2 separate regions of the Homo sapiens genome follow, and region 1 is linked to region 2. Evidence: fine-mapped QTL for protein levels in blood plasma. Region 2 holds a variant in brackets. A gene starts in the other region. All regions are shown on their reverse strands.

Region 1 (16,165 bases), not on the chromosome of region 2:
CCCACCGCCCCCCACAAAGGCAATTCCAGCCCACCCCAGTTCCAGCCCTAGGCTCTGGGAAAAGGAATCACGAAAGCTCTCTCGGTCCTTTCCCATTCGCAGGAGCAGAGGGCCCTGGGACACCCGTTCCCCCATCCCAGTCCTCTGGAGGCCAACGGGTTCCCTTGGAGACCACCAGCTGGTGCCTGTCTCAGCGTGTGCCTGTAGGGGTTGCGGGGGAGGGGACGTATGTATCAGTGCACAGGTCTCTCATCCGGCTGGCATGGCCCTGGCACCTGTGCGTGGTGTGTGTGTGTGTGCGTGTCTTGGTGTACTCCAGCATGGGGCTTTCTGTGCGCATCTGGGTCCCTGCTTGCGTGTCCGTGGGTCCCTGCGTCTCCCCGCGTCCTATGTCTGCCTCTCTCCAAGATTGTCTCTCTCGAGGTGGGTGCCACCGTGTGTGCGTGTGTCCGCGCATCTGTCACCGCGCGTGGGCTCCTCGGCGCGGAAACCCTCCCCCAGGAGCGCCTCCAGCCGCGCTGGCCGGGGCCGCAGCCTCCTCCTGGCGGGTGCCGGTGGCCTGGCCGGCCGCCCTACCTTTGGACATGAATCCTCCTTTGTCTCCGTTCCTCCAGGGAGATGCTCCGGGCGCGGGGCTGCAAGGCTGAGCGGGGCGCGGGCTTCCCCGGGCCGAGCGGCCCCTGCAAACGGGCCTCGCCCCTTCGCGCTCTCCTCCCACCCGCCCGGCCCGCGGCCCCGCCGCGCCGCCCCTGCGCCCCGCGCCGCCGCGCCCTCCCCGGGACCTCGCCTCGGCTCGCTCGGCGCCGCGCCGCCCCTGTCCGCGCGCACCGTTGCCGCCGCCGCCAGCCGCCGCCGCTGCCACCCGCACCACGTGACCGCGCGCCCGTCGGCCCCGCCGAGGGCCCCTCCCCTTCCCGCGGCGCCCGCGCCCGCAAGCGGGAACTGGTCCCGGGTCCACGCTGCGGGCGGTCCAGGAGCCGCCCCCGCGGGCTCCAGGTGCCAGGCCCGGAAAGGTGCCTGCATCCCAGTCCCGTCTCTCCCCGCTGGACCTGCTCCCCGCCCCTTACCCACTGGGCTGCGGCGGGGACGGGCGGAGGGGCGCAGGGGACCAGTGGCAGCTGCGGGCGGCCGTGAGCGCGCGTGAGTCACGCGGGGGCTGGGGTGTTGCGCGGGTGCCTGTAGAGCCGAGTCAGGGGCCCGGGTTCCAGGCCCTGCTCCAGAATGATGAACCAATAACCTTGAGCCAGACAGGAACTTCTCTGAGCCTCAGTTTGCCCATTAGAAAAAAATTTCACGCATTCAGTGGATACTAATGGACAGCATATTGCCTCACAGGGGTGAGGACAACCATCCCTCCCCTCGAAGGTTCTGGGTCTAGTGGAGGAGACAGGAAGATGGAATGTCCTAATGCAGGGGCCGGGGTGCACACAGGGAACTGAGGGTGCAGGCAGGTGGGCACCCTGGGGAGAGGGGGCTTGGAAGACTTCTTGGAGGAGATGAGGGCCAGATGGAAAGGCAAATGGGAGTGGAAGGGAAGAATGGAAAGGGAGAGGTATTCTGCAAAGAGAGGACAGCAGAGGTGAGGGTCTCCAGAGGTGAGAGCTGCGTGGTGCTGGTGGACAGCCCAGAGTCCTTGGTGTCGCTGAAGCAGAGAAAATTCCAGACAGGTGTGTAGAGCTAAATAAGAGGCTGGAGAAGTCCGCACGCAGCCTTGGAAGCTGGATTTTAATGGAAGGTAATGGTGAGTCACTGACGAATATTAAGCCGAAAGTGCTGCCATTCAATGTGGGAGTCGTTGCAGCAGTTGTGTGTGGACAGGGAACAAGCTGGTGGGTGGGAGGTGGCCTCACAGGGGCAGAAGGATGGAGAGGAGGGGACAGCCAGCCAGATAGTTGAGTACTGAGGAGGTAAACCAACAAGGTGGGAAGTAGACTGGATGAGATGGCAAGAGAGAGATGAGGAAGAAGAGGATACCCGGGTTTCTAGGCACCTAATAAAAGGTAGGCAATGCCTACAGCTGAGAGAGTGAGATCAGGGAGGCAGGAGTCAGTTCAAGAAGAAAAGGGCTACCTCTGGACATGCCCGGGAGACATCCGGGTAGATAAGCCTAGCAGGCTGCTGGCTGCCCACATCTGCACTTCAGGAGACAGGGCTGGGCTGCAGATGGAGGGAGAGCTGAGATCTCGTAGGGAGAAGTGAAGACCAGAATTTAGGTGAGGTGCCCAGACTGAGTGTGTGGGGTGGAGGGAAAGGGGTCTGACAATCTAACGACTCAATTAAGGCATTAGACTGGATGCCTTCTAGGCACCTTTCCAGACCCAAAAACTCTGAGCCCTTGAAATGTTGGGAATGAGGCTGCCCAAAGTAGAGATTTTAACAATCTGGATTCCAATCAGCTTACTGCCACCAGCCAGCTTTGGTGTGACTTTAGGCATGTCACAGGCTTTCTAAGACCAAATGAATGTCCAGCCCTTGTGTTGCCCTATTTTAGAGTTCTGTGTAGGACTTCCATATATACAAGGCTCCAACTTACCTTTCAGGATTAAAGGGCTGGGGGTGGGGGACCAAGAAAGAGACATTCAGGTAAGACAACTTTTAAGCAACAGATACCTTCCTAAAAGGCTGAGCGTAAATGGATTTGGAAAGTCTCGAGTGAGGTCATTATCTCACATCCAGAGGAGGCTGCAGAGACTACCTATTAGACAAATCACAACTTCCTAAAGCGCTAGTCAGTATTTTCACGTAGGAGGTAGGAGGCTTGCTTTTTTTTTTTTTTTTTTTTTTTTTTTTCTTTTTGAGACAGAGTCTCGCTCTGTCGCTCAGGCTGGAGTGCAGTGACGCAATCTCAGCTCACTGCAACCTCCGCCTCCCGGGTTCAAGCAATTCTCTGTCTCAGCCTACACACCTGGCTAATTTTTTGTATTTTTTAGTAGAGACGGGGTTTCATCATGTTGGCCAGGCTAGTTTTTTTTCTTTTTTTTTTTTTTTGAGACGGAGTCTCACTCTGTCACCCAGGCTGGATTGCAGTGGCGCAATCTCGGCTCACTGCAAGCTCTGCCTCCTGGGTTCACGCCATTCTCCTGCCTCAGCCTCCCAAGTAGCTGGGACTACAGGCACCCACCACCACACCCGGCTAATGTTTGTATTTTTAGTAGAGACGGGGTTTCACCTTGTTAGCCAGGATGGTCTTGATCTCCTGACCTCGTGATCCACCTGTCTCGGCCTCCCAAAGTTCTGGGATTATAGGTGTGAGCCACCACGCCTGGCCTGGCCAGGCTAGTCTTGAACAACTCACCTCGTGATCCACCCGCCTTAGCCTCCCAGAGTGCTGGGATTACAGGTGTGAGCCACTGCTTTTAAAGGTGGACACACCTATTGATCACCTGATTATTCCAGGTCTTCAGGAAACAAACAATCCCGGGAGATGCTGAAAGGAGGACTCACCATAATTGCTCCTCCACAAGTTACCCCTGTTAACCTTTCTTTTTCTTTTCTTTTTTTTTTTTTTTGAGACAGGGTCTTGCTCTGTCGCACAATCATGGTTCACTGCAGCCTCGACCTCCTGGGCTCAAGCAATTCTCCCACCTCAGCCTCCCCAGTAGCTGGGACCACAGATGCATGCCACCATGCCCTGCTAATTTTTTATTTTATTTTATCTTATTTTATTTTTTGAGACAGAGTCTTACTCTGTCACCAGGCTGGAGTGCAGTGGCACGATCTTGGCTCACTGCAGCCTCTGCCTCCCAGGTTCAAGTGCTTCTCGTGCCTCAGCCTCCCAAGTAGCTGGGACTACAGGCATGTGCCACCACACCTGGCTAACTTTTGTATTTTTAGTAGAGACGGGGTATCACCATGTTGGCCAGGCTAGTCTTGAACTCCTGACCGCAAGTGATCCACCCGCCTTGGCCTCCCAAAATGTTGGGATTACAGGTGTGCGCCACTGTGCCCAACCCTTATTTTTTATTTTTTTATTTTTTTGAGACGGAGTCTCGCTCTGTCGCCCAGGCTGGAGTGCAGTGGCATGATCTCGGCTCATTGCAAGCTCCACCTCCCGGGTTCACGCCATTCTCCTGCCTCAGCCTCCCAAGTAGCTGGAACTACAGGCACCCGCCACCACGTCCGGCTAATTTTTTTTTTTTTTTTTTTTGTACTTTTAGTAGAGACGGGGTTTCACCGTGTTAGCCAGGATGGTCTCGATCTCCTGACCTTGTGATCTGCCCGCCTTGGGCAGATCCCAAAGTGCTGGGATTACAGGCGTGAGCCACCGTGCCCAGCCCCTTATTTTTTATTTTTTGTAGAGACAGTCTCACCATTTTTCTCAGGCTGGTCTTGAACTCCTGCACTCAAGCAATCCTCCCATCTCAGCCTCCCAGAGTGCTGGGATTACAGGTATGAGCCACCACACCTGGCCAAAACCTTCTTTCTGATAGTTTCCCTCAGCCTGACCTCAGACTGGCAGGTTAGAACCCAGCTCAGGGTACAGTCCCTATGTCTGGCCCTACAACCCCCATTTCCTTTTCTCCCAACCCATTCAACCCTGACCTTAGAGTCCTTCCTCCGTTTCTCAACCCATGCAAGCATGATCCATCTCCAAGCTCACACACCTCCCCCTCCCGGCAGCCTAGTCCATCCCCAACCAAGTTTCTGCATTTACCTTTGTATTCTGTGGCCAGGTCCAGTGAGGCAGGCTCTGTGGCTCTGTCCATGGCAGCATTAGTGTTGTCCAGGGCTAGGTCTGTGGATCTGCTTGGCATTAGCAGGCATGTAGCAACGTCTGATATGGTTAGGTTATTAACACTGCCCAGTGTGGTCTTCCCAGTGGCTGGGTCTGGGGTTACTGGCACAACTGAACCCACAGCTGTGCCCATCCTGCTTGTGTCCAAAGCAAGAGAATTCTTAGCCGTGCCCAGCTTGGCTCTGTTCACTCTGGCCAAAGCCATGGCTGTTTCCAACCTACTGGTGCCCACTGTAGCTGTGATTGTGTCCGGCTTGACTGGGTCTGATGTTGCTGAATCCATGGCTATACCCTCTGTGGTCATATCTGGTTTGGCTGTGCTTCTTGTAGCCATGGCTTTGCCCAGCTTGTCTGGTTCTGAGGCTATCAAATCCATGACCATCCCTGGCTTGGTTGTCCCAACTGTAGTCAGATTCATGGCTGTGCCCGGCTTGATTGTGCCTGCTGTAGCCAAGTTCACGGTTTTGCCTGACTTGACTGTCCCTACCGAAGACAAGTCTCTGGCTGTGCCCAGCTTGATATCCAGGGCAGGGAACTCTGTGCCTGTGTCCAGTTGGGATGTGTTTGGTGTGGCTAAATTGATAGCCAAGCTAGGTCTGTTGGTGGCCATTGTGGCTAAATGTCTGGCTGCGTCTGTCCTTGTGTCCATAGCAGTCAAATTCACAGTCGTGTTGGCCCTTTGGAGACGCCCCCGGGGTCTGGGGATCCCCCTGGCCCGGGGCTTGCCTTTTCCTGGAGAAGCTCTGGTAGGCATGTGGTCAGTCACTGAGACAAGGTGCCCCTGGCCCAACGAGCCTGGCTCTGCAAGGACTGGTGCACTCTGGGCTAACCGGGATTGGAAAGGTAAGGCTAGGTAGGAACTCACCAGGGGCTTCTCCGTGGCAAGCATCCTGTTGGATTTGGTCAGACCTGGGTTCCCTGGGCCCTCAGAGTGGACCCTGCCCCCTGGCACTAGGGTCACAGGTGGCGAGCCTGGCGAGGACACCCTCCCTCCTTCATGGGGAGCAGCCTTCTTTCCTGGGGTAGGCAACTCTTCCCAGTGAGAAAGTGGGCGATCCAGGGACCGTGCCTGGCTGTTCTGATGGAGAGTCAAGGAGATGGAGCTGAGCTTCCTGGGTACAAGGCTGCTGGTGGGCAGGGGGCTCAAGGAAGCCCCCAGAGCGATGCCCGTCTCCTGTGGGGGCACACTCCGGGTCCTGGCTCCAAGGCCCAGCCGGCTGGAGGTCTGTGGGATATGGCTTTGGGGGAAGGTATCCAGATGGATGGTCTTCCTGAGGACGGGGGTGAGGGGGGACCCTCCTCCAGGGAGTCTCGAGGGGCGGATAGGGCGCCCCAGCACATGGCTATGGGAGAAGGAGGTTCCCGGGCCTGGAGCTCCATGCGACTGCATCTCTGGAGGAGCAGGAGCAAAGTTGTGGTCCATCCAGGTCGTTTGTCTTTCCCTGAGGCAATCAACAGAGAGAAGAGGCCAGGCAGGGGTGAGGAGCTCAGGCCTGGAGGTCTCAGCTCTCCCCTTCCTGACCAGCAGCTGAGCATGCCGGGTCTGAAGGGGCCTGGTTCTGGGGACTGTCCAGTCCTTAGTGGAGGATGCATGTAACTTCCTCCTGTCCTCCTACGGCTCCTACCTGCTGCAGACTGATCTGTACCTCATACCTACCCCACCCCGGCCAGCCACCACACAGTGGGGTGGGCACGTCCAGTGAGCAGTCTGCCTCCAGCATGGGGCATCTCAGGCTGGGCTTACGTCTCCCTTTGCCTGGGCCTGAGTGTGGCCCCTGTCTCTGTGGACAGCTCTATGGAGGTCACATACATGTTCAGGGACTCCAGAGGAGGGCAGTGCTTACTGGAGACGTCTCTCCCTTTCTCTTCCAGAAAGAACCAAAGGGCTGTGGGTTCCCACCCACAGCAGCCAACATAGGAGCTCAGGTGTCCAGGTGGCAGGATGAGAGAGGACCAATTTGGCTTAGAGCCCCAGAACCAAGAAAGAGCCCTGAGCTGGCCTAGTGCTGGAGTCAGAAACAGAGCCAGCCCTGGAGAAGGTGAGGATGGGAAATGGAGAGGCAGTGAGTGTTCACAGAAGGAGCTTATCTGGTGAACAAGCCATGGTCCCCGCCCTTGAAGAGGCTGCCATGCCCAGGGATGCCAGGCAAGGAAGTAGGCAGGGCTCCACCAAGCTAAGCATTAGGGGTAGAAAGGCGGGAGGCTAGACCTGAGCTGGGGCTGTTCCTACAGAAGGCCCAAAGGTGAGAAAGTGTGGCATCTTTCTGAAAATCCAACATGGGGCTCCTAGGCTGTATGTAGCAGGGAGGGGAGAGCCAAGGCTGCAGGTGAGCTGGGGTCCAGGCCAGGCTACAGCAAAGTTTAGGCCAGGGAATGTGACCCATTCCGATCTGTAGGTGGGAACGGCCACTCGGGCAGTGTGACAGAGGGATCAGATGGGAACAGAATTGAAGCCAGGATCCCATGAGGACATAGTTGAAACTCTCTGCTCCGTGGGCTGTGCAAGGGGCAGAGCTAGGGCTGGGGCTGGAGGAGGCTGCATTGCACAGGGGTAGAAGTGGCGGGACTGCCCAGGGTAGGGAGTGGGCACAAAGAGGTGTCGAGGATGAAGCTCAGGACTCTGGCTGTGGTCTTAGTAGATGGGCCACTCCCTGCTACTCTGGACTCCAAGTAACTCACCCTCTAGAAAAAAGTTGGTTTGGTTGCTTTTAACACAGCAGGCTGGGACCTGCAGCTGGGGGACAAGGCCAGGGCTGGTGGGAGGAGTCAGTTCCAGAGGGCTCATGGGGAGGGGAGTGATCATGTAGCCAGGTCCTTGAGGTCTGCAGCAGGGACGGGGAAGGCAGGGCACCGGACAGGGAAGGCATCACCCCTCACAATGGTGCCCCCAGCCCCTCATCCCTCTCCAGCCATATATTTGTATCCAAGACTGTCCTGGCCTCCAACCCTTTCCCACCTGGCCTATCACTGCAGCCCTGAACTTCTGCCCCCTCCTGCACAGCCACATCCACTTGGGCACACACGTTTACCCTGCACTTAGCCACAAACAGCTCCCCTCAGTGTGCACACCCACACACAGAGCAGGCCAGAGGACAGGGTGTCCGAGGGCATCACCCGACTCCCCATCCCCTCACTGCACTCCCATCTTCCATGGATTGCTTGGTCCTTCCCCACCCCACCCCCACCACCCTCCCACCCCCACAAACCCCCACACCCTTCCACCCCCCTACACACCTACCTTGATCAGAGGACAAGAAGGATCCAGTGTGTCTGGGAAGATAAGGCACACGCAGGCCCCTCACCTCCCCTGCACTCAGAGTCTGGCCATGGTGGCCAGCTTAGGGGCCTTGTCCCTCTGGTCCCCTCCTCAGCTCCTGCTCAGCCTCCAGGCCACAGTCCCCAGGCACAGGGCCCAGCCCTCTGCTCACTGTCCCACCAGCTACATCCCCGGAGACCGTGCTGGGCTGGGCTCTGGTGCAGGGAGGGGCTGGCTTCCTAGGAGTGGGCGGCTGTGAATGGCTGCTCTGAGCCTCTGGAATCCTGAAGAGCCATGGGAGGCTGGTAACGGCCAGGCTGGCACTCACGGCCACCTGCAGGGAGGTTCCCTGCAGCCTGCCCTCCCCAAATCTGCTCTGTCTCCCACAGACTTTGATGCCTGGGGAGTCTGCAGTAAAAACAGGGGTACTCCAAATATGGCTGCACTCTGGTAGTCCCAGCGCGAGTCTCCCTCTGGCTCTGCCTCTGTGCCCTTCATGCCCTGTTCAGCTCTGCAACCCTCAGACCATCTTGCCCACTCACCTGGTCTTTCCTCAAGGGGGCTGGAGTTCCTGGAGGCTAGAGCTCCTTCCACAACTATTCCCTGAGCCCCAGCTTGCTCCAGCTGGACCCTGTACCCAGACCCTAAGGGTGTGAAGAGGACCCCGCCCTAGGCCTGCCCCTGAGGGGACCACAAAGCCACCCAGCCTGGCTCTGGCAATGCCGACTCTCAGCAGCCCCTGGCCCTGGGGCTGGGATGGGAGCCCTCTTCTGTGTTCCCACAGCCCTCGGCTGCCTCTGTCATAGCAGTGGTGATAATAACAATGGTGCTGATAACAGCTACTATTTCCTGAGCACTTGCTCTGTGCCCGGCACCATGCCAGGGCTGGGCGGAGCTCACAGTCTGCTAGGAAGATAGGTATGTAAACAGATCCTATAGTACTGTCCTGTACGGTGATGGCAGATGTCCTCCGAGCACTCACCCTGAGTCAGGAACTAGGCTAAGCATTCTCCTGGCATCTCCTTTAATCTCCGCCTCATCACCTGCTTTTTACCGAGGAGGACATTGCAGCCCACACAACACTGTGTTGTCTGGTCTGCTCTCCTGTGTGTCTCTCTCTTTAGCGAGTGAGCTTCTGGAGCTGCGCTGGGCAATACAACTTTCAGTGATAATGGAAATGTTCTATGTCTGTGCTGTCCAGTACAGTAGCCACTAGCCACAGATGGCTACCGATCACTTAAAATGTGTCTACAGTGACCAAGGAACTGGATTTTTTAGTTTATTTTAATCTGTGGCTACCATATTAGCTCAGCTCTGTTTCGTTTGTTGTTGCTGTTGTTGTTATTAGTTTTTTTGAACAGGGTTTCACTCTGTCGCCCAGGCTGGAAGACAGTGGCGCCATCATGGCTCACTGCAGCCTCTTGGGCACAAGTGATCCTCCCACTTCTGCCTCCAGAGTAGCTGGGACCACAGGCATGCACCACCACGCCCAGCTAAGTTTTTATTTTTTGTAGAGACGGGGGTCTCCCTATGTAGCTCAGGCTGGTCTCGAACTTCTGAGCTCAAGCAATACTCCTACCTCCACCTCCCAAAGTGCTGGGATTACGGTCGTGAGCCACCATGCCTGGGTGGAAAGCTCAGTTATGAAGGTCCTGGATCTTCTTCTCTGGGCCCCAGGGTCTGGCAAAAATTGGCTTCAGTAAGTTTCTTTTTCTTGAGAGTCTCACTCTGTCACCCAGGCTGGACTGCAGTGGCGGGATCTCAGCTCACTGCAACTCCGCCTCCCGGGTTCAAGCCTCAGGATTCTCCTGCCTCAGCCTCCCAAGTAGCTGGGATTACAGGTGTGTGCCACCACGCCTGGCTAATTTTTGTATTTTTAGTAGAGACGGGGTTTCACCATGTTGGCCAGGCTGGTCTCAAACTTCTGACCTCAAGTAATGCATCTGCCTCAGCCTCCCAAAGTGCTGAGATTACATGCATGAGCCACCGTGCCCAACCGGTAAATTTCTTTAGAAAGAAATAATGAATGAATGAATGATTGAATGGTGATTGTGTGGGCCTAGCACCCATCCCTCTTCTTTTTTTTTTTTTTTTTTTGAGACAGAGTCTCGCTCTGTCACCCAGGCTGGAGTGCAGTGACGCCATCTCGACTCACTGCAAGCTCCGCCTCTCGGGTTCACACCATCACACCATTCTCCTGCCTCAGCCTCCCGAGTAGCTGGGACTACAAGCACCCGCCACCACGCCCACCTAAATTTTTTGTATTTTTAGTAGAGATGGGGTTTCGCAGTGTTAGCCAGGATGGTCTTGATCTCCTGTCCTTGTGATCCGCCTGCCTCGGCCTCCCAAAGTGCTGGGATTACAGGCATGAGCCACCGTGCCCAGCCCCTATCCCTCTTCTTATCCTTTCTCTCCCCTTACAGCTTTAGGTTCTCAAACTTGGCTGGGCTCTGGTTACCAGGGCAACGTGCTGGGATCCCAGTGGATGGGGGAGGGCAGCTATCTGGCGCTTCCATGCTTTGAGGCCCTGAGAACTGGCCTGACTTAAGGAAGAACAGAGGGTGCTGGGAAGGAGAGGCACAGCTCTGCCTGGACGGATTGGAGCAAGGGAGACTTTCCTGGGCCCAGCCCCATTGGATTACATGATCTCTGTGAGATAAGCAGCCTTGGGCTGAAATCAGTGGCCCTGGGTTCTCTCCCCACTTTGGCCAACGATTCACCAGGCAACGTCTATCAGATTAACTTGTGCTTCTGGGACTCAGTTGCCTTTTAAAATAGGGATCAGATGCCCTCATGTGGTCGGTCTCTTCTACTTCAAGATCTACAATTCCTCCATCTCGCTCCCTGCCAGGCTGTTAGGGCCTTGAGAGCAAGGCCTGAGTCATGTTCATCTCCGCATCCTCCTGCCCATCTGCCCTGCTTAGAGGCTTAGAGGACACTTCCTGCCCAGTAATTACAGGCCAAGTTTCAGCTGCCCTCTAGGGGCCCAAAGTGACAATGGCCCTCTCCTATCTATACATATGGTGCTTTCCCATCAAAGGAAAGATCCATAGGCCTGGAAGTGGCCTCAGAGAACAGAGGCCTCCACTCAACCACAAAACCATTGTGGTGGCCTCCCAGACAAGTGTCATAGGCTCTGGAGTCCTTCAAGCCTGGGTTTGTTACAACTATGTGATTTTCAAACAAGTCAATCCCCCTGAGCTCCCCTCTCATCTGTAAAATGGAGATTATATCAGTCAGAATGAGTTAAATTATGCTGCAGTAACAACCATTCCCAAATCCCAGTGGCTGATAACAACATGCTGATTTTTTTTTTTTTTTTTTTTTTTGAGACAGGGTCTCACTCTGTTGCCCAAGCTGGAGCGCAGTGGCACTATCACAGCTCACTGTAGCCTCGACCTACCCAGGCTCAGGTGATCCTCCCACCTCAGCCTCCTGAGTAGCTGGGACTACAGGCATGTGCCACCACGCCCAGCTAATATTTCTTCTTTTTTTTTTTCTTGAGATGGAGTTTTGCTCTTATTGCCCAGGATGGAGTGCAATGGCATGATCTCAGCTCACTGCAAACTCTGCCTCCCAGTTTCAAGCAATTCTCCTGCCTTAGCGTCCTAAGTAGCTGGGATTACAGGTGTGTGCCACCACACCCAACTAATTTTGTATTTTTAGTAGAGGCAGGGTTTCACCATGTTGATTAGGCTGGTCTCAAACTTCTGACCTCAAGTGATCCACCCTTCTCAGCCTCCCAAAGTGCTGGGATTACAGGCGTGAGCTGCGTCCAGCCTAATTTTTCTAATTTTTGTAGAGACAGGGTTTTGCCATGTTGCCCAGGCTGGTCTAAAACCCCTGGCCTCAAGCGATCCTCCTACTTCAGCCTCCCAAAGTACTGGGATTATAGGCCTGAGCCACCACACCTGGCCGCAATGATACATTGATTTCTCATCCATGTCTCATGTCCACAGTAATTTGGGTCCACTAAGGCTCTGCTCTGTGCCCTCTTCCCTCTGGGACCCAGGCTGCCTTCTAGTGCATTGCTAGTCATGTGGCAGAGGGAAGGAGGGAGTGACAAATTGTGGACTAGCCATTAGTCCATCAGCCATTCGGCCTGTACTCACTTCTAATTACAACTAATTGGCCAGAACTAGTCTTATGGCCCCACCCATCACAAGGAGGCAGGGAAGTTTAATCCTACCGTGTGCTGATAGCTGGAGAGTCAGAAACCTTTGGTGAACAGCAGTGAGGACCCACTTGCATGGTTGCCATAAGAATGCAATGGGGGGCCGGGCGCGGTGGCTCAAGCCTATAATCCCAGCACTTTGGGAGGCCTAGGCGGACGGATCACGAGGTCAGGAGTTCAAGACAAGCCTGGCCAACATGGTGAAACCCTGTCTCTACTAAAAATACAAAAAACTTAGCTGGGTGTGGTGGCGCGTGCCTGTAATCCCAGCTACTTTGGGAGGCTGAGGCAGGAGAATCGTTCAAACCCGGGAGGCAAAGGTTGCAGTGAGCCGAGATCACACCATTGCACTCCAGCTGGGCAACAAGAGCGAAACTCTGTCTCACAAAAAAAAAAAAAAAAAAAAAGCAATGGGGGCCAGGCGCGGTGGCTCACACCTGTAATCCCAGGACTTTGGGAGGCTGAGGCAGGCAGATCACCTGAGGTCAGGAGTTCAAGACCAGCCTAGCCAACATGGCAAAACCCCATCTCAACTAAAAATACAAAAATTAGCTGGGCCTGGTGGCGGGCGCCTATGATCGCAGCTACTTGGGAGGCTGAGGCAGGAGAATCACTTGAACCCAAGGAGCAGAGGTTGCAATGAGCCGAGATCACACCACTTCACTCCAGTCCAGGCGAAAGAGCAAAACTCTGCCTCAAAACAAACAAACAAACAAATGCAATGGGCAATTGCTAGTCCATGAGCTCAGTCCATGTTAGCCATTCAAATTGTTGCCTTGGCACTCTGATTTCCTTTTTTATGTATCTTCCATGATTTCCTCTGACTTTCTCATCAGTTCCAGCTGTTTACAGCTGCAGAAATAGAGGGAAATGGACCTGCCAAGGTTCACACAGTGAATCAGTAGCTGGACACCTAGGTCTCCAGGCTCCAAATACTGAGCCCGTCATACCTTATGAGGGAGGGAGAAAAAAGCTCTGCCTGCCAGGGGTTCTCTGTAAGGGTGGTTGACTGAGACTGTGATAGTCTTTTGAGGGAGCCTGCAGTCTTTGCCCTTCTCCCAAAGCTGGTCTCTCAGCCTTCCCGAGCCCTTCCTTCTCAGCCAGTGTGAAGAACTGAGGGGGCGGAACAATGAGGAGCCTGTGCCACCCTCCAGGGCTGGAATCCGAACATTGCAGCCATTCTTACTCAGGGACCCTGTACATTCCCGCCTCCTGTCCTCCTGTTCTGGGCCGAACCCTGACACACCTGCCCTTCCCCATCCTGACAGCTCTCAGATGTTGGGAAAGCTCCCAGGACTCTGCAAAACCTCTCAAAGCATTTTAAAAATCTGCACACAGCTTGATGCCCAGGAAACCTCCAAGCCTTTCTGAAATCTTGGTTTCTAAGCAAACAGGCAACTCCTGGCAGGACTTCCAAAGAAACTAGCCCCATTCTTGCAACAAGCAAGCTTTTAAGGAGGCCCTGACCAGTGCCAGTAAGGCTGCAAGCCAAGATGAGAAGATGTGGTCACTGCTCCCCACTGACGTGAACAAAATCGCAACACAAGATTAGCATTGTAATGGGGAAAGCTGCTGGGGGGGCCAGGGAAGGCTTCCTCGAGTAGGTGGTAATAGGAAGGTCATCGGGTTCTCAGTCTGGGTCTAAGCCTTCCTTGAAAAGCCACTTTCTGGTTGCTTAATCCGCCTGCCCTCCTGCCACTGGCTCACTTGCATTCTGTCTTTTGGCCACACCACTCACAGTCCTCAAAAAGGACTAGGTTCTCTCCAGAGTCCATGGCTTAACACTTGCAGCCTTCTTTCCCTTTGCAGGGAAAACTCTTATTCCACCTCCAGAACCCAGATTAATAGTCATGTCCTCCGGGAAGCCTTCCTTGACAACCCCCTTCCCCAAAAACTAGGCACTTCTTCGGTTCCGTTTCCAGTTCTGCACACATACTTCTCTTGCTGCAGGTACAGTTTTATAATTTGTCTGTTGGCCAGGCACAATGTAATCCCACTACTTTGGGAGGCCAAGGTGGGCGGATCACTTGAGGTCAGGAGTTCGAGACCAGCCTGACCAACATGACAAAACCCAGTCTCTACTAAAAATACAAAAATTACCCTGGCATGGTGACGCGCACCTGTAGTCCCAGACACGGGAGGCTGAGGCAGGAGGATCGCTTGAACCTGGGAGGCGGAGGTTGCAGTAAGCTGAGATCACACCACTGCACTCCAGCCTGGGCAACAGAGTAACACTCCCTCTCAAAAAATACTACTACTAATAATAATAGTTTGTCTGTTTATACTTCTGTAACCCCAGTTTGTGAGCTCTTCTGATGCAGGGACATCCTCTTTTCCATTACATTCTTGGTGCCAGGCCTAGGTATGTGACATGCCTCTGTAGAGTTCAAGAGGATAGCTGTGGGCCGGGCGCAGTGGCTCATGCCTGTAATCCCAGCACGTTGGGAGGCCGAGGCGGGCAGATCACGAGGTCAAGGGTTCAAGACCAGCCTGGCCAACATGGTGAAACCCCCATCTCCACTAAAAATACAAAATTAGCTGGGCATGGTGGCGCATGCCCATAATCCCAGCTATTTGGGAGGCTGAGGCAGGAGAATCGCTTGAACCCAGGAGGCAGAGGTTGCAGTGAGCCAAGACTGTGCCACTGCACTCCAGCCTGGTGACAGAGCAAGACTCCATCTCAAAAAAAAAAAAAAAAGAGGATAGCTATGTGATACATGGCGTTTATACAGTGCTTTCTTCCCCACTATCTCTGACATTTGCCATCACCCGGTGAGGGAGGTAGGGCAGGAGTGATATGAAAATGAACAGGGCTTGGATGGGCACAGTGGCTCATGCCTGTAATCCCAGCACTTTAGGAAGCCGAGGTGGGCAGATCACGAGGTCAAGAGATCGAGACCATCCTGGCCAACATGGTGAAACCCTCTCTCTACTAAAAATGCAAAAATTAGCTGGGTGTGGTGGTGCGTAGTCCCAGCTACTCGGGAGGCTGAGGCAGGAAAATTGCTCCAACCTGGGAGGCGGAGGTTGCAGTGAGCCAAGATCGCACCACTGCACTCCAGCCTGGCGACAGAGCGAGACTCTGTCTCAAAAAAAAAAAAAAAAAAAAAAGGAAAAGAAAAAAGAAAAAAAAAAAAAAGAAATGAACAGGGCTATACGGAGAACCTGACAGGAGCTGAGCACAATGCCAGACACTGGCAGGGGACATTTTTTTGAGCTTTAATCATCTGTGATTCTCAGTGCCTGACACAAAAATGTTTGGTTGTGTTTCTGAGAGCTCAGGAAACTTGCCCAAGGATGTGCAATTTAAATCAATGGTTTTATAGGATTAACTATTATCAGGTCTTGACCTCGAATCGCTCCTAGTCCAGTCCTCTGGCATCCCCTCGCAGATGGAAAAAACATCCTGCCTCCACGGGCAATGGCCTGTTTCTGTAGGCTCTGCCATCTGGGTCAAACCTTCCCTCCCCTCCACTGTGTTGCTTTTACTATACCATCTGAGGCATTTCTTTTTCATATTTAGAACCAGAAAAAGGTCAGGTGCCATGGCTCACTCCTGGAATCCCAGCAGTTTGGGAAGCCAAGGCGGGCGGACCACTTGAGGTCACGAATTCAAGACCAGCCTGACTAACATGGCGAAACACCATCTCTACTAAAAATACAAAATTAGCTGAGCATGGTGGCGCATGCCTGTAATCCCAGCTACTGGCAGGAGAATCACTTGAACCTGGGAGGCGGAGGTTGCAGTGAGCCAAGCCTGGGCAACAAGAGCGAAACTCTGTCTCAAAAAAAAAAAAAAAAACAAAAAACAGAAAAAAAATTGTCTTTCATGAAGAGTGAATCTCTCCCTTCTATCACATAACAATAAAAAGATGGGCCAGGTGTGGTGGCTCACGCCTGTAATCCCAACACTTTGGGAGGTGGGAGGATTGCTTGAGCCCAGGAGTTCAAGACCAGCCTGGGCAACATAGCAAGACCCCATTTCTAAAAAAGAAAAAAA
Region 2 (16,165 bases):
TTGTATTTTTAGTAGAGACGAGTTTCATCATGTTGGCCAGGCTGGTCTTGAACTCCTGACCTCAGGTGATCCACCTGCCCTGCCTCCCAAATTGCTAGGATTATAAGCATGAACCACTGCATCTGGCCCCCAGTGGTTTCTTGTAAGAAACATGCAGCTGTTTAGATCATTGTTACCTTATTTGTATAGCACATAATGTGTAGCTCTGTTGTTTGGTGTGCACACATTTAGAATCCAACAATTCTACTAAAAAACCTCTAAATTTTTAGTAGGTTGACCTTTTATTATTATATTCTGTCTCTGGTAATTTTCTTTGCCTGAAGTCACTTTTATCTGATATAGTAGAGCCTCTCCTGCTTTCTTTTGATTAATGTTTGCATAACATACATTTTCCCATATGCTTTTACTTTCAATTTGCTCATATTATTATATTTGAAATAAGTTTCTTTTAGATAGCATATGCTTAGTCAGGCTTTTAAATACACTCTGACAATCTCTCTCTCTTTTAATTGGTTCATTTAGGCCATTTACTTTTATGTAATTATTGAAATGTTAGGACTCCTCCTTACTGCTGGGTGGGAGTAGGAGATCCAGCTCCTCAGGAGACCTTCCCTGGTACCTCTGTGCGTAGGAGGGTTGTGTGTCTCCTTTCTGTTCTCCATGAGGGCTTTACTGGCACCACAAGGGGAGGGGTGGACTCACTGCTACTGGGAGATGGTGAAAGTTCTGAATCTCCACTAGGCCTCTCTGATACCAGCCAGTGGGGAAAGAGCTGAGCAACTCATAACTGCTGGGTTGGGGTGGAAGTCTAGTTTCCCCATGTAGACTCCACTGACACTGCAGGAGTAGAGGGGACTTGTTACTGCTTGTGCACAGAGGAGATGAAAGTGCCTTTTCTGATACCAACCCATCCAGCACTAGAGGGTGCTGGGATGCCTCATTACAGCTCAATGAAGGTGGAAATCTAAGCTCTCTACCTAGCCTTTGCTTGTAGGGGAGGAGATGGGTCACCTCCAGCGTTTGACTGGAATAGAGCAATTATTGTCTAAAGTTTTCTGTCTTGCTGGACTGTCTTCTTCCTGAGCCTTTGGATAGAGAGAGCAGGTTTTTACTGGCCTTCTTTTTTTTTTTTTTTTTATCTGTGCCTTTTGGTATTTTCAGGTTATCAGCTTCTTCAGGTCAGGGATATCTGTTACATTTATTGAGTGGAATAGGGTAAAAGTATGTCTACTCCATATTACCAAAACCAGAAGTCTCTATTTTTCCCAATGCGTTTTCTCTCCATTGTTCAAAATGGAAGACTTTTATTGACCTGTCTTCAAGTTCACTGGCTCTTCCGTTATCTCCATTCTTGTATTGATTCTATCTAGGGAAATGCTATTTCTATTGTTACATTTTTCAGTTCTAAAGTTTTCATGTGATTTATTTTGTAGCTTCTAGTTCTTTGATGAGACTGTCTAGCTTTCCATTAACTTCAGGAGTGTTAGCACTTACTCCTTACAGCATGATTATAATAGCTGCCTTAAAGTCTTCAATACTTCTAGCACTTGGTCATATCAGGATTAGTGAATGTCGATTGCCTTTTTCCTTCAGAATTGTCTATGTTTTCCTGGTTCTTTACATCCCTTGTGCAATTTTGGATGTAGCCAGGACATTTTGAATATTATGTTATGAGATTCTTTAAACATCTTCTGGGAAAATGTTGACTTTGTTGTTGTTTCAGCAGGCAGTGCACCTAATTAAGTTTAGATTGCAACTTCTGTTTCGCTTTCCCTGTGTAGGTTATTTACACAAATGTTGTGTTCTCTCTCCAATCTGTCTTTGTTACTTTTCAAATCATCAGGTATTTGTGTTTTGTTCAATGTCTGACGTGCTGCAGTGGGCTCACTCCATTGTGGGAAGCATCATTCAAAAATGCAACTCAACCCCAAAGATTTTCTGCTCTAATTCCCAGTGCTATAAATACAGGCTATCATGCCAGTGATCATGTTATGTTACATTACAAAAGCGATTTTGAGATGCTATTAAGATGGCTAATTAGCTGACATTGAGTTAATTAAAAAAGGGATTATCAGGGTGGGCCTAATCTAATCATGACAGTCCTTTAAATGCAGAGAGTTTTCTCTGGCAGGTAGCAAAAGAGGAGTCAGACAGATTTGCAGCATGAGGGTGATTTGACACACTTTTGCAAGCTTTGAAGATGGAGGTTCATTTAGAAAGAACCTGAGAGTGGCCTCCAATAGCTGACAGCAGCTCCCAGCTGACAGCCAGCAAGAAAATGGGAACCTTACTCCTAAAACCACACGGAACTGGATTCTGACAACAACCTGAATGGCCCTGGAAGCTGCTTCTCCCCCAAATCTCCAGCTGAGCATAAGGCTTGGCTTACACCTTGACTTCAGCTTTGTGAGACTCTAACCAGAGGACCTTGCTTGCTGAGCCCACTCAGACCCCTGATCCATAGAACTGTGAGTTAATAAATGGGTGCCGTTTGTGGTAATTTGCTGTGCATGAGTAGAATACTAACACAGCCACCTTGACTGCTATAGAAATTATGAACTTTGTTTTTTAAGTGTTGATGTAGATCACTTGAAACCTAGCAATACTTTGTCTTCCTCCAACACAGGTTTCATTTGCTTCTCCAGGCATGTTCTGGAAGTTAATAACCAGTGCCATTGCCAGAGATGGTCTGTGCACCCATATGACTTAAAATCAGTTTGCAATTTTGGGGGAGAGCTGGTTTACTTGCAGGTGATCCTTACCTCTGGGATGCACATGTACATAGTTGTCAGGCTAAAGTGCAGGTTCCTTAACCTGAAACTCCATTCTTGGCAGGCTCTAAACATGTACCCTGGTCCCCTTCAGCCTGCTGAGTTGACAAAACTCCCACACAGACTTGAAAGCTTCTCTCTGATTGGTGAATGACCCCAGACAAAGATACTCACAGATACTCCACTCTGAGTTTCTATTTCTGCCGAATCTTATTCTGGTAATTCCTCATTACTCTGATCATCTTTAGTGCTTAAGAAGAGTATCTCTGAAATTTGCCCAGCTTTTTTGATTTCAGAAGGAAGTTTGGCCTTGTTTTCTAACCCATTATTACTGGAAGTAGAAGTCGGCACTTCCAGTTCTATGATCTAATTTTACACTTAGGTTTCCAGGTCACTAGAGCTTGCACATTGAGCATTTTTTTAAATGGCCATTTAATACTCACTGGAGGAAATGGACATCCTCTTATTGTTGAACACTTATAATCTATCCAGTGTTTCCTCTTATCGTTGAATACTGATATCCTAGCCAGTAATTAACACGTTTATGTACACGCTTTTTTCTCTTACGTTGCATTTTTTTTCCAAGAGTAAGTTCTCTGGTAAGCTTATTGATTCAAAGGGTACAAGCTTTTCTTTAAGTTCACGTAGTGTCATAAGTGACACTTATGAAACAGATTCAAGTCATAATACCACATCCCCATAAAACAATCTATCTAAGGCATGTAAATATTCACTGTAATTAATTTGATCCTTATTGCATGTTTTAAAAACATTTCAACTTGCTTTTGATTTGGATCTCTCTCACCTTTATTCTGAGGGATGGGTGGGGGGCCTGGGGACACATGGCCCACAGAAGGCTGGAGATGGAGTGGGAGGCAGGCTGACTTGTCATCTCTGTTTGATGTGCTGCTGTGTGACTTCCTACCACAGCTCATCAGCGGAGAAGAGGGAGGGCTCTAGGCATCACCCACTGAGATTTTGGTTCTAAAAGTCTGGGATGGGGCCCCTGAATCTGTATTTTTCAGAGCCTCCCCAGGTGGCTCCGACGGACAGTTAGGTTGAGGAACCACTAGCGTGCTAGTTTCAGAGAGCCGAGTAGAAGGTTTTAGTGCAAGCGAACAAAACCCGGAGATCTTCTGGCTCATCAGAGCAAACTCATATTAAAGAAGACAGCAATCCTGGAAGGGAAAAGAGAGATAAACGAATTAACGCAAATGGGTTTCAATTAGAATCCAGGCTCGCACAGCCCAGAGAAACAGGAGCTGGGAAGCCAGGTAGGTATCAGCCGAGCCAAGCATTCATCAGAGCCAAGCATGCTGGATACGTGATGGCCGCTCCAGGTTTTGTTTTTGTTTTTGGATGTGCGTTCTGTCCTTGACTCACATGTCTTGGCCATCAGCCCAGTAGAGGCCCTTCCCGACGGTACGGGGTAAACAACCTTGGACTTCCCGCCATACAGGTCACTTGGCCCACTTTGAAGATTAGCTTTTATGGAGAAGCAGAACTGCATTTGACAAGAGGAAGACCTTCCAATGTCAGTCACCACCATCCCAGGCCACACTGATCTGGTGGCTGCTCATGCCAGTAGTGAGCTTCTTGTGCCTGTGGGTCTGCTGGGAGCTACAGAGGCACTGACTTGAGTTCTGGGTGGTAAGATCACCCAGAGCAGCTGCCCCTTAATTTCCAGTTCTCAGATTTGATGATTCATGTTTCAACCCCAATGAAATTGTAGAACACCCATGCCGTCATGGAAGGCACAGGGCTCTGGGAGGGCCCGTTTGCTACCTTGGGACAGATGGACATATCCAGATTGTCCTTGGCTCTGCTGGCTTCCCGACTGGGACTTCTGCCACATCTTGGGGTGGGCGGGTGGGCTTCCAGCCTCCTGTAAAGCTGCAGGAATCAGATAACTGGCTGCCCCCCACCCATATGGCCTCTGGCTGATGAGTCACAGTGGCAATGAAAACCAAACTGAGTAGCTCAAGTGCAGCTAAAGAAATCAGTAGGAGGCCAACTTGGCACAAAGCCCAGAGTAAGTTTTTGAACCAGGAGGAGAATGCAGGTTTCTCCTCTCCTCGCCTGGGCCACCTCTTTGTAAAGATAAGAAACAGCAGCTATTTTAACAGGCAATCTTAATATCTCAGGGCTGATACACAATGCAAGTTTGTTTCTTGCCCAGGTCATAGTCCAGGGCAGGACATGGTGACAAGAATCACTCCTGCAGTGATTTAAAAAACCAGATTTCTTCTGGGCATCTTCTTTCCTGAGATAGAAATTTGGCTCATATTTCATTCAGATTTGATGCACTTCTTTGCCAATTTATCCCCATGCCTCCCTGTATCTCTCATCTTAAGGAAGTCTTTCTTAAAGTTTTCAGGCTTGGGCAGGAAGGATCTTTACTACAATTTTGAGTCACTCTGTTCAAAACAACGTATTCCATTGATCCTTCTTACCCTAGTGCTTTTAAAACCTCATCTCGTACTGTTTGGAGTCTAACAATGTTCAGGCATTTTCCAACTCTGCGAGATTTCCAATTCCTAGTCTCTTTAATCCATTTTTTTTCCTGCTTGCTAATTTCTTTTCTAAACTCTTCTTTCTCTTGTAACACCTAGTCAGACAGCCAATAAAAATAAACACACACTGAAAGTTCTGTTTTTCAAGTCGATCCCCTGGGGCTGGAAGAGACGTTCCAAGGAACTGCCTTCCAAGTTATTGAAGACAACATGTTCATCAAACAAAACTCTGCAGCCCTCCACCCACCATGTGGCTGCTAGGCCAGTGCCTTGGATTTTAGGTGTCTGTTGCCACGCTCTTGCACTTCTGGTACCAATCTCTGCATGAGTCAGTGTAAGCACAAATAGCTGCTATAACAAACAACCCCTCAGGATCACAGTGTCATCATTTCCCCTTGTGCTGCAATGCAGGGCCCATGCAGTGCAATGCAGGTTTACAGAGGGCTTTGGGGTTCCTCACCAGGACATGGGACAGAAGGTTTGGGGGGCCAGTTTAGAAAGGGGTCTGCATAATCTCTGTGAACATCCCATTGACTAAATCTCCATCATATAGTCTCATCTAACTGCAAGAGAGGTTTAGAAAAGCAGCCTTCTTGTACCCTCAGGAGGGGGAAAAACAGGCTTAGTGAACATATAACACTATGTCTGTCTCAATGCCACAAGGCATGCCTTTTATAAACAATAATGAGAAATTCTCCTGGAGTGATGGGAGCACGTACGGTAACGATGCAGCCATCTTCCCCAAGGGTTTGCCATTTGTGTATGGATTGGAATGTGAATTGTCTGTATTTGCACTTAAATCTGGACATCCACCTGATGCAGGGTAGGTGAGCCCCAAATTGGGGCTTAGCCCAGGAGGGTTCTTGGCTTCACCCAGGAAAGAATTTAAGGGTGAGCTGGTGGCATCAAACAGCAACTTCTATTGAAGCGGCCATGTACAGCAGTAGCCAAGTTACCCTCCTTGCAGAGCAGGGCTCCCCATAGGCAGTGTGCCCAGAGCAGCAGCTCAGAGGCAGTTCTGCAGACATACTTATACCCACTTTTAACTAAATGCAAATTAAAGGTGGTTTATACAGAAATTTCTAGGAAAAGAGTGGTGACTTCTGGGTCATCAAGTCATTGCCATGGAAAGGGGTGGTAACTTCTGGGTGTTGCCGTGGGCAATGGTAAACTGACATGGCACATGGGTGGGTGTGTCTTATTGAAAGCTGCTTTCACCTTGGCCCTGTTTCAGCTAGTCCTCATCTGATCCAGTGTCCAATCCCTGCCTCCAGAGTCACGTCCCGCCTCCTAACTCTCTCTCAGGTCAGACAGGCAGTGAGAGAGTAACTGGGGAGTTCTGGCTCCTATAAGGATTCAGGAGAACTTCAGGCTGAGCCTGGAAGAAAGAAACAGGACAGGACTCACTGGAGCCACTGCTTTGAGTCTTCCATTTAGGCCGTTTGTCTGATGCTATTGGAAAAGGCCTCGTTCTCCTGGTGAGAGGGCAGGCTCCTTCAGAGCAGGAATTCACTGCCTTGTACTCCAGAGAGGGCTGTGCACCCAGCAGATGTTCCATGGGGGTAGTGGGAGAAGGGCTTGGCTTAGTCTTTCTTCACTAAGTGATTAGTGTCATTCTAGTGAAGAAAAGAGAAGGTGAAGGTCAGTGGGGCAGGTGTCCTGAACTCTGTGTCTTCCTGACTTTGAGGATAGGGCATGCAGTGTTTTGGGGATTTTTTTTTTTTTTTTTTTTGAGATGGAGTCTTGCTCTGTCACCCAGGCTGGAGTGCAGTGGTGCGATCTCGGCTCACTGCAAGCTCCACCTCCCAGGTTCACGCCATTCTTCTGCCTCAGCCTCCCAAGTAGCTGGGACTACAGGCACCCGCCACCACACCCAGCTAATTTTTGTGTGTATTTTTTTAGTAGAGACGGGGTTTCACCGTGTTAGCCAGGATGGTCTCGATCTCCTGACCTTGTGATCTACCCTCCTCGGCCTCCCAAAGTGCTGGGATTACAGGCATGAGCCACTGTGCCCAGTGGTTTTGGGGATTTTTTACCTGTTGCATCTGACTGGGGCCACTGAGACTCCTCTTAGGACAACCGACCATCCTGGTGGCTAGGGCTTTTCCAGGAGATGGATGCTCAGTGCTAAAACTGGGCAGGCCCAGGCTCACTGGCACAAGTTGGCCACCCCACTCTTTCTGACTACAGGCTACTGGGAGAGGAAAGAAGCCTAGGACGCAGAGGAATAAAGGGACAAGAACAGACACCCAGAGAGGCTGGGGACAAAGAGATGCGAGGGGCCCTGAGTGCCCAGGAGCCTGGAACAGTGATGTCCTCCTAGCGTGGGGTCACCTCCCAAAATGCACAGTTCATGCTCTGCAGCAGGCCATGTTTTCTGCCTGTTACTCCCTGCTTGCCTTCGGCCACTTCCCAGAATGCTCTTTCCAGCTCTCCACTCCCATTCCCCAGCAGTGTTTCCATCTTGGTTGCTGTAAAGTGCAAAACTCAGAACCCAGGGCACAGGTGGGGAGTGACCTATGCAGAGGCGAGTGTGGCATCTTCCTTGTTCTAGATGTCAGGCCTTTGTGAATGCAGCCTAAAACCACATCCTACCTTTGGTGAGCAACATTACGCTCTGCCTAGAGCCAGCTGAGCCTGGAATCCACAAGACGGCCCTTTCCCAGTTCTTTTTTTTATAAATTGCACTTAAGGCATGGAGTCATTGGAAGAACTCAGAAACCCATGGTGAGGGGTAGGGAAGGGGCAGGGGACACGGGGGTTTGGGTCAATGGAGGCAAGAACACCTGGTTTCAGGGTTTGGGTGCCTATCAGTCACAGCTCCCAACCATCAGCTTATTGGAGG[G/A]AGACAGTGTCCCTCAGGCCAGGAGAGAGAGAAGAGAGCCAGTTCTCCCTCAAGCAGATTCTGAAGGCAATAAAGGCAGACAGCCTGGCCTCTGCTCTGACCCCAGGGAGCCCGCCCTGGCTAGTGTGGGCAGCAGGTGAGGGAGGCCTTTGCTGGAGCCTGGCCCACAGCAGGTGGCTCCATCCTCCTCTCCCAGGTCTGGATACACAACAGAGTCAATCCCTGCCCGCCACCCCTATGCCAAGGCACAGCTCCCAACACCCTCAACAGAACAGCCTGGACTCTCAGCCCAAGGAGACAGGCAGGTGACAGGAGGTGTAGGGGCAGGCCAGGCAGGGCTAGGCAGGGCTGGAGCCCACAACAAAGACCTATAGCCAAGGGCTCCTGCGCCCAGGGAAAGGCCCGAACAGAAGGGGAGGCCTCACGGGCAAGGGCTGTCAGCTGGGCAGGGGGTGCCCTAGGAGGAGGACTGGCAGCTGGGCCGGGTGTGTGATGCTGTGCTACGCTTCCTGGCCCTTCAGCACATTGCAAACCCAGTGTGGGAGCACATTCTTCTTACTCCCCGGGGCCTTCAAATCCACCCTGCCATCCCATGTTACACGAGAAGGAAGATTCAGAGAGGTCAGGTCACAGATCAAGGCCACACAGCCCAGGTCTGTGAGGGCAAAATGCCACTGCACTTCACAGCTGAAATGAAGAGACTTTGCTTTTGAAGGAGGCAAGTTCTACTCTGAGACCCTGCCTGGGAGCACAAGCCACACATAGTGCCACGTGGCCAATGTCTCCATAAACACGTACAGGCAGCTGAACAGGACCAGGGACCAAAGGGCCCCAGGCAGGGCCACTGACACCAAGGCCAGGAGGCCTCACAGAGCCCCATGCTCGGTCAGTTCCTCCTGAAGACTGGACAGGAAGAGGGGGTGGGGATCAGGCTGCAGCAAATCCATCGCCCAAGGGCTGAGAGCCCAAGGGCAGGATGGAAGGGTCCTAGGGTTCCACAGAGCACCCGCTACTGCTCGGAAGGCAGAGCACAGGGAAGACAAAACCAGAAAGCACATCAGATTCTGGAGAGGTGAAGGCGAGTGAGAATGAGGTCTGGAAAAGGTGTAGCAGGGGCAGGGTGGAGAATGAGGATCCCAGGGAAGGGTCAAGTTGTGCTCCCATTCCCAGAGAGCATCACACCTTCATGGGGAGAGTCCTCAGAGGTGGAGGACTGCCCTGGGCCTAGATTTGTTAAATGGCCCTCTCTCCTGCAGAGGAGCTTTCTGAGTACACTGCTTCACCTTCCTGATACATGGGGTTCCAGCCCTGCAGGGCGGGCTCCTTTCTCATCCTAAGGACGGGGACTTCCTGATGTTGCAACCACCCAGTGGGTTCAGCTTGCCTGCTGCCCAGACAGAGCCAATTTATCAAGACAGGAGAATTGCAATCGAGAAAGAGTAATTTACGCAGAGCCGCCGTGCAGGATACTGGACTAGAGTTTCATTATTACCAAATCAGTCTACCCGAGCATTCAGGGATCAGAGTGTTTAAGGACAACTTGGTGAGTTGGGGGGAAGCGAATGAGCCAGGAGTGCTGATTGGTCAGGGTTGGGGGGAAGCCAAAGAGCTGGACATACTGATTGGTCAGAGATGAAATCACAGGGAGTCAGAATTGTCTTCTTGCACTGAGTCAGTTCCTAGGTGGGGGCCACAAGATCAGACGAGCCAGTTTATTGAGCTGGGTGGTGCCAGCTGATCCATCAAGTGCAAGGTCTGCAAAATATCCCAAGTACTGACTTCAGGAGCAGTTGAGAGAGGGTCAGAATCGTGTAGCCTTCAGCTGCATGACTCCTAAACCATAATTTCTAATCTTGTGGCTAATTTGTCCTACAAAAGGAGTCTAGTCCTCAGGCAAGAAGGAGGTTTTGGGAAAGGGCTATTATCATCTTTGTTTTGAACTATAAACTAAGTTCCTCCCAAAGTTAGTTCAGCCTATGCCTAGGAATGAACAAGCACAGCTTGGAGGTTAGAAGCAAGATGGAGTTGGTTAAGTCAGATCTCTTTCATTGTCTCAGTCATAATTTTACAGTGGCGGTTTCAATGTCAGTTACTCCAGCCAAAGCAAGGCTTCACAGCTTTGGGGAAAATAAGCATCCTTATCCAGACCCCAAGAGAGGGTTCTTGGACCTCTCACAAGAAAGCATTTGGGGCGAGTTCATAAAGTAAAAGCCACTTTATTAAAGAAGTAAAGAAACAAAAGAATGACTACTCCATAGGCAGAGAAGCTCTGAGGACTGCTAACTGGCTATTTTTATACTTATTTCTTGATTACATACTAAACAAGGGGTGGATCTTTCATGAGTTTTCCAAGAAAGGGGCAGGGAACTGAGGGTCCCTCCCTTTTTTAGACCATACATAGTAAGTTCCGGAAGTTGCCATGGTGTTTGCAAACTGTCGTGGGAGTGTCCTTCAACATGCTAACGCATTATAATTAGCATATAGTGAGCAGTGAGGACGACCAGAAGTCACTTTTGTCACTGTCTTGGTTTTGGTGGGATTTGGCCGTCTTCTTTACCGCATCCTGACCTGTATTTTGTGATACCCGTCCTGCCAACCTCCTATGACTAAGAATGCCTAACCTCCTGGGACTGCAGCACAGCAGGCCTCAGCCTCATTTCACCCAGCCCCTATTCAAGATGGAGTCTGGCTTGAATGCCTCTGTCACCCCCAGCCTGGCCACAGAAACCACAGTTACAGTTAAGAATCTAGGGTCTAGTGGGCACAGGCCCCCTGCCAGCTGCTGCCCCTTCTTCCAGCCCTCCCGACAGCAGAGGCCTGAGACCTCTGAAGAGCAGGAAGGGAGGCAGCGGTCCCCAGCAGAGGGACAGGGACAGCCCAGCCCTGGGGACACTCTTGGCCTTGGCCTAGGCTCCAACCTGGCTCAGCCCCCTGCTCTGGAGGGGAGCCAGACACCCTGAGGCAGCACTGGTGGCCTGAAGGAGCCAAGTCTTTCAGGGGATGGGAGAAGCAGGCACCTGTGGCTCCCAGGTGCCCACCCAGTACCAGCTGGTCCTACAGAGCCCTTCCGATGCCTGCCTCAGTTACACCTCCCAGAGGCCCCGCAGGTGCACACACACACACACGTATGCACATGCGATGCACGTGTCATGCAAATACATTTATGTTATGTTAGGTTAATTACACAAGCCTCCATGACCTCCCTGTGCTGTGTTAATTACGCCAGCCTCCTGACATACTGACTGCATTTTTATAAGTACATTTTCTTATCCCAACAAACCCCCCCAAAGCTTGACAGTATTTATAAAGTATAGCAAAGCTACATTAAATATTTAGAAAAAGTTACTTTTTAGCTCATCTCTCAATTAAGAAAATTTAAAAAAACAATATTTTTAAAAATCTCTGGCTTGTCAGGCTAAAAACATTTCTATATTAAATAGCTTTATTTTTGCCTTCCAGAATAATGCCATCATGCATTCCAGGGAGAACCCCATTTCTAGAACTCAAGGGTCAAGATTTGGGAGAAATTCCCAGTTCCTCCCTTTACAGCTGTGTGAGGTGCGTGTTTTCTTCATTTAAATCTCCTGTTGGAGATTGAAATGCCCAGAATGGGGGGTAAGCGGCGCTGAGAGGAGGTCTGACGCCAGGTCTCATCCTGACAGTGGCCCGGGCTGTGTGGCTGAGCTCTTTGCTGCCCTAGAAGACTGCCTGGCAGTGAATGGCTGAAGCGTGAGGCCACAGTGCATGTAAAGTCAGCACCTGTCAGTGATTTGTCATCCTGTCTAAAAGCTAGGGACCCAGGTCTACGAGAAAAGAGATGTCTGGGTGTAATTTCCAGGGGCAGCACCCCGTCATTTAGTTATAAACCCTCAGGTTTGACAGCTTGCTAGTTTCTGTCCTGAGGACGGGTCAGCCCCCTGGGTGGGTGGTGTGGCCCCCTCCTGCGGGCCCAGGAAGGAAGGAAGTGCCACGCCCAGGGCCATCCCTGCTTCCCGCTGTCCTGGCTCATCCCAGGCCTCGGACCCAGAGTGAGGAGGGAAGGTGAAGATGGCTGTGTCCTGATCTTCATGGCGCACCCCCTCCAGGAACTCAGAGGAAACAGTGCACTCTCCCCCGAGAAGTCCCAGACACACAGCCCTCTCCATGACTTGTGTAGGGCTTAGACCAGCTAAGACCCAGGACGGACCCTCGTAGGGGAAGGAGGGGGCCCGCGTGAAAAAGCTCAGGGAGGGATCATGGCCTCCTTGGACCCTTCTGGATCCTCTCTGAGTAGAGGGTATAGGACAAGGGCAGGGCTGTTATGAGAGTGATCGGGGACCCAAACAGCCGTACAAGGGTCAGCACTGGCCGATGCTGGGGTGCGGAGCCTCTAAAAGCCTGGTCAGGCTGAGCTGGCTGGGGACCGGGGACAGGGGACCGGTCCTCAGGAGGACCCGGACGTGGTGAGAGGAGAGGGCCAGGTGCCATCCTCAGCAGACACAAGCTCCTGCACTAATACACTTTTCTCTCTTGCAGGCAGCTTGCCTGAGAGAAGCGGGTGGAAGGGGCTTTGGCTTTCTGATTCAATCTGCACTGGGCTAGGCTGCAGGGCAGCTTTGGGATGGACACTCATGGCCAAGAGGAGTGTTCTTCCCTCCTCAGGAGTGCTCGGGTCCCTCACACCTGCCTCATGTAACCACTCTCTCCGTTTTGATGAGGGAGTCACAGGCACACTGCCACTCTTGCTTCGGCTTGTGAGGAAGTAGCGAGCAGATCCCACGAATACCCAGGACAGCAGGCGGCAGGAAGCCTGGGTGACGGGGGAGAGTGAGCAGAGCTGCGGCTACGAGGCTGGGGGCCTTGGACAGGCAACGGCATCTCTGAGTGCAAGAGAAACTTCCTCTCCAATGTGCCTTCTGACTTCCCTGCCATCCAGCTCACAGAGAAGCCCAGATGGTCGAGCCCCAGGAAGGCGTTTAGCCTGCCCAGGGACCTGAGCAGGGCTGCACTCTGAGCCCATCGCAGCTTCAAAGTCTTGTATTTGTCCTTAAGGAAGGTTCCTGCTGGCATGGTCAGGAACACATTCTTACTCATTGTCAAGGAAAGACAGAGGTTTGAGGTGAGTTAATGTCACAAATCTGAAAGGGTTGATTGCGGAAACAGAGCTGGATTTGAACCTCTTCCGCACAGCAAGACAAACCCAATTTAGAATCACGACATGTGTTTCTTTTACAAACCGTAGGGCCAAGCTCCCAACCCTACCCCCCAACCAACTATGTGTGGAGGCGTCCTGACCCTGAGGCCGGCCTGGGCTAGGCAGGTCGCACCTTCATCTCTGACACCTTGTAGCTATAATTGTATCCTTTCCCCGACTTCCAGTTGATGCCATTTGCAAAGCTGCCATGAGTCCCCCTGAGGTAGCGACCATTCAGGTTTGACACATGGCAGTTTTTGTACCACCAAGCTCCCTGAAACATCACAGCACAATTTCCGGTGTTAAGATCATTGTCCTGGTCTTTGGTGGAGAAGGACTGGTTGTTGTGGAACGTCAGGGAATCTCCTGTGCAGGAGGAAATGTGAGCATCGTTACAGGCAGTAACATCATTACAGACAGTATAAGTCTTTATACCTGAGGCCTGGCCTGGTGTGTCCTCCATGTATGGTTAGGCAGGTTGTGCACTGCACAATCCAAGAAGTGCAATCCATGACTCCAGTGAATACTGCCCTGCTGTTGGCAGTGGTCTTGGCAAATTGTCTTTAGGTCTAGCCCTGCCACCTAATGTGTACTATGTTTATTTCACAGAAGAACAGGAGGCAGGGGTCAGGATCATCATTCTCTACTCTGGATTCCATCATGGCAGACCCCTTCCAGCCATGCCCCGCAGAGATATCAGCTGCTGTCACCGTGCATAGGTCCCTGCTCTGCAGAGACTTCCTTCCTACCAGATGCCCTTGCTGGGATTTCTGCAGTCATACACTGATGTGTCCCATGACCCCCATGCTACACAGAGCACAGATGTTAGTGTCTGCATGTAGAGATGGACGAATTGGCTCAGAGAGGTGAGGCCTCTTCCACAAGGCTACCAGGACACTGAGCACGCTCTCTCCACTTCCCAAACCCCCCTCAGAAGCCCAGGCCACACAGCCCCAAGCAGACACTCACCCGCACTGCCCTCCACGAAGGCCCCCAGGACCAGATTGTACTTCTCCGCCTCGTCGGCCACCTTGAATGATCTGTACTTAGCAAACTGGTAGTTGTCCTCAAAGTCCACCAGGTCTACACGGAGCTCGCTGGTTCCTGTTAGAGAAAGGTTTCAGGGTCTCAGCGGAAGGGCTCTCTACCTTTAGACATGGGAGCTGGGGATCTGGGGCAGGGCCTGGAAGGAGGTCTGGACTCCATGGAGGCAGAGGGCGGAGAGCACCGCAGCATCCCCGGGGCCTGTGTAGCTCTGACCCGGCAGGGTGTGCTGAGCAGCAGGGCAAGACTCTTGACTCCCAAATCCTAGCGGATTAGAGGCAGAGTTGGGGTTGGGCCCAAACTCCACTATGGGGCCACTGTGTCCCTCCTTCCCCTCTCAGGACCTGAGATGCCAGTGGGGCCAAGACCTGAAGAGGCCTTCATCCCAGAGCTCTGACCCTCTCCCGTCCCGATGCTGCCAGAGCCTGCAGCAGGGACGAAGCCCTCGGAGGTCCCAGTGCCACCCTGAGTGTGCTCAGGGCCCAATCCCCTGTGGGCCAAGAGGCTCTTGTGTTCCAGGCAGCCCAGGCCCAAGAGGCAGGGGCACCCCCATTCAGGGCCCCCGACCCCCAAGCCCCAGCAGCGGCCCTACCCTGGGCGGTCAGGGCGTGGATGTTGTCATTCCCCAGCCAGAACTCCCCCAGCCGACTGCCGAAGCCCTGCTTGTACGTGGCCCAGTCCCGGTAGAAGTCCACAGAGCCATCCACCCTCCGCTGGAAAACCTGTGGAGAAGCCAGGGGACAGGAGCCGGGGGGGCCAGGCCGACGTCCCACAGCACGGGGGACCCGCCCTCCAGAGGAGCAGCATTTGTAGTTGGCAGAGCATCACAGGCGGGGTCACCAGCACGCCCACCTGTTCTCCTCACAGACTCCACAGGATGAAGGAGGAAATGGGGGCTCAGAGAGGGGAGGCAACAAGCCCCAAGCCACACAGCAGGAGAGCACCCAACCTCTCCCAGCCTCCCCCAAAGGCCTGGACTTTTACCCACCGGTCATCTCCCCCATCATCTCTGACTGTCCCCGACCAGGAGAATAGAGAATTCCAGAGTGTGTTCTCCCACCAGGTGTGCAGCCTGGCCTCCGGGACTCCCAGGCTGACCGCCTCTGCCCAGCCCCACACTCACGGTCCAGCCCCCTCCGTCCGTGTCCATGTCACAGAGCACAGTCAGGGGCCGGCAGTCGGGCAGGTAGATGGTGTGCCAGCCGCTCAGGAAGTGCCCTCGGTCTAGCAGGTCCTTGCAGGTACGCGGGCCTGGGAAGGGAACCCGGGGAATGGCTGCAGGACAGGAGCCCTGGGCAGGGCACAGGCAGTAGGAGGGAGGCCTGGGAGGAAGAAGCAGGGCCATAGGCGTCTGTATGAACAGAGCGGGACTCTGAGGCCTGGACAGGGACACGGCCCCCAGGGCCACGCAGCTGTGATGGCCGCAGCCAGTTGGCCTGGCCCTCCCACCTCCCAGTGTCACCCCCACCTTCAGCTCCTGGGCACCCGGCCTTCTGGCGTAGATTATAAATAGAAAAAAATTGCCATGGAGTGTATGTAAGTTGTCTGGACAATATTTGTCACTTCCTTGAATAATTAGGGGACAAGGAAACGGGCAAGCAACCATTTTCTTCTGTTCATATTTGTCACTTCATTCTGGCAATGGCGTCGTATGACCCTGGACTTCCAGCCAAGGGCAGCCACAAGCCGTGGGAGGAGTGTGGGGGTGGTCAGTCACCTGTCAGGCACGGCTGGGGCTCCCCAGGTGCTCCTGTTCATGGATGAGAGAGGACACACGTGTCACAGTTTGGAAATCAGAGCCCTTCAGCCCCCATTGGTC

Direction of the effects. Positions count from the first base shown, and alleles are read on the strand shown. Strength reflects both the effect of a copy and how common the allele is.
In carriers of allele G in region 2, the plasma level of the protein whose gene starts at base 8,208 in region 1 tends to be higher than with A alone (weak association).

What was found. PIP is the posterior inclusion probability: the model's chance that the variant is causal. Protein levels are from antibody-based Olink assays in UK Biobank. Linkage for the fine-mapping came from a reference panel and not from the study's own genotypes, which makes the PIPs less certain.
Region 1: SEPTIN3 starts here. The variant in region 2 is fine-mapped to the plasma level of the SEPTIN3 protein (UK Biobank, PIP above 0.99).

What each region holds. Positions count from the first base shown.
Region 1 is chr22:41,961,486-41,977,650 of GRCh38, reverse strand. It overlaps SEPTIN3 (septin 3), which reads right to left and starts at 8,208. Exons shown (of 12, transcript NM_001363845.2): 1 at 7,974-8,208; 2 at 4,655-6,177. The coding sequence starts at 6,158. RefSeq lists a silencer at 783-852.
Region 2 is chr9:134,884,671-134,900,835 of GRCh38, reverse strand. FCN2 (ficolin 2) reads right to left here. Exons shown (of 8, transcript NM_004108.3): 4 at 16,064-16,096; 5 at 15,470-15,597; 6 at 14,939-15,068; 7 at 14,272-14,406; 8 at 13,313-13,668. The coding sequence ends at 13,421. Among named protein-coding and RNA genes, the nearest start is that of FCN2, 12 kb to the right of the region's middle. RefSeq lists an enhancer at 10,531-11,031. The variant G/A (reference allele first, on the strand shown) is at 8,130.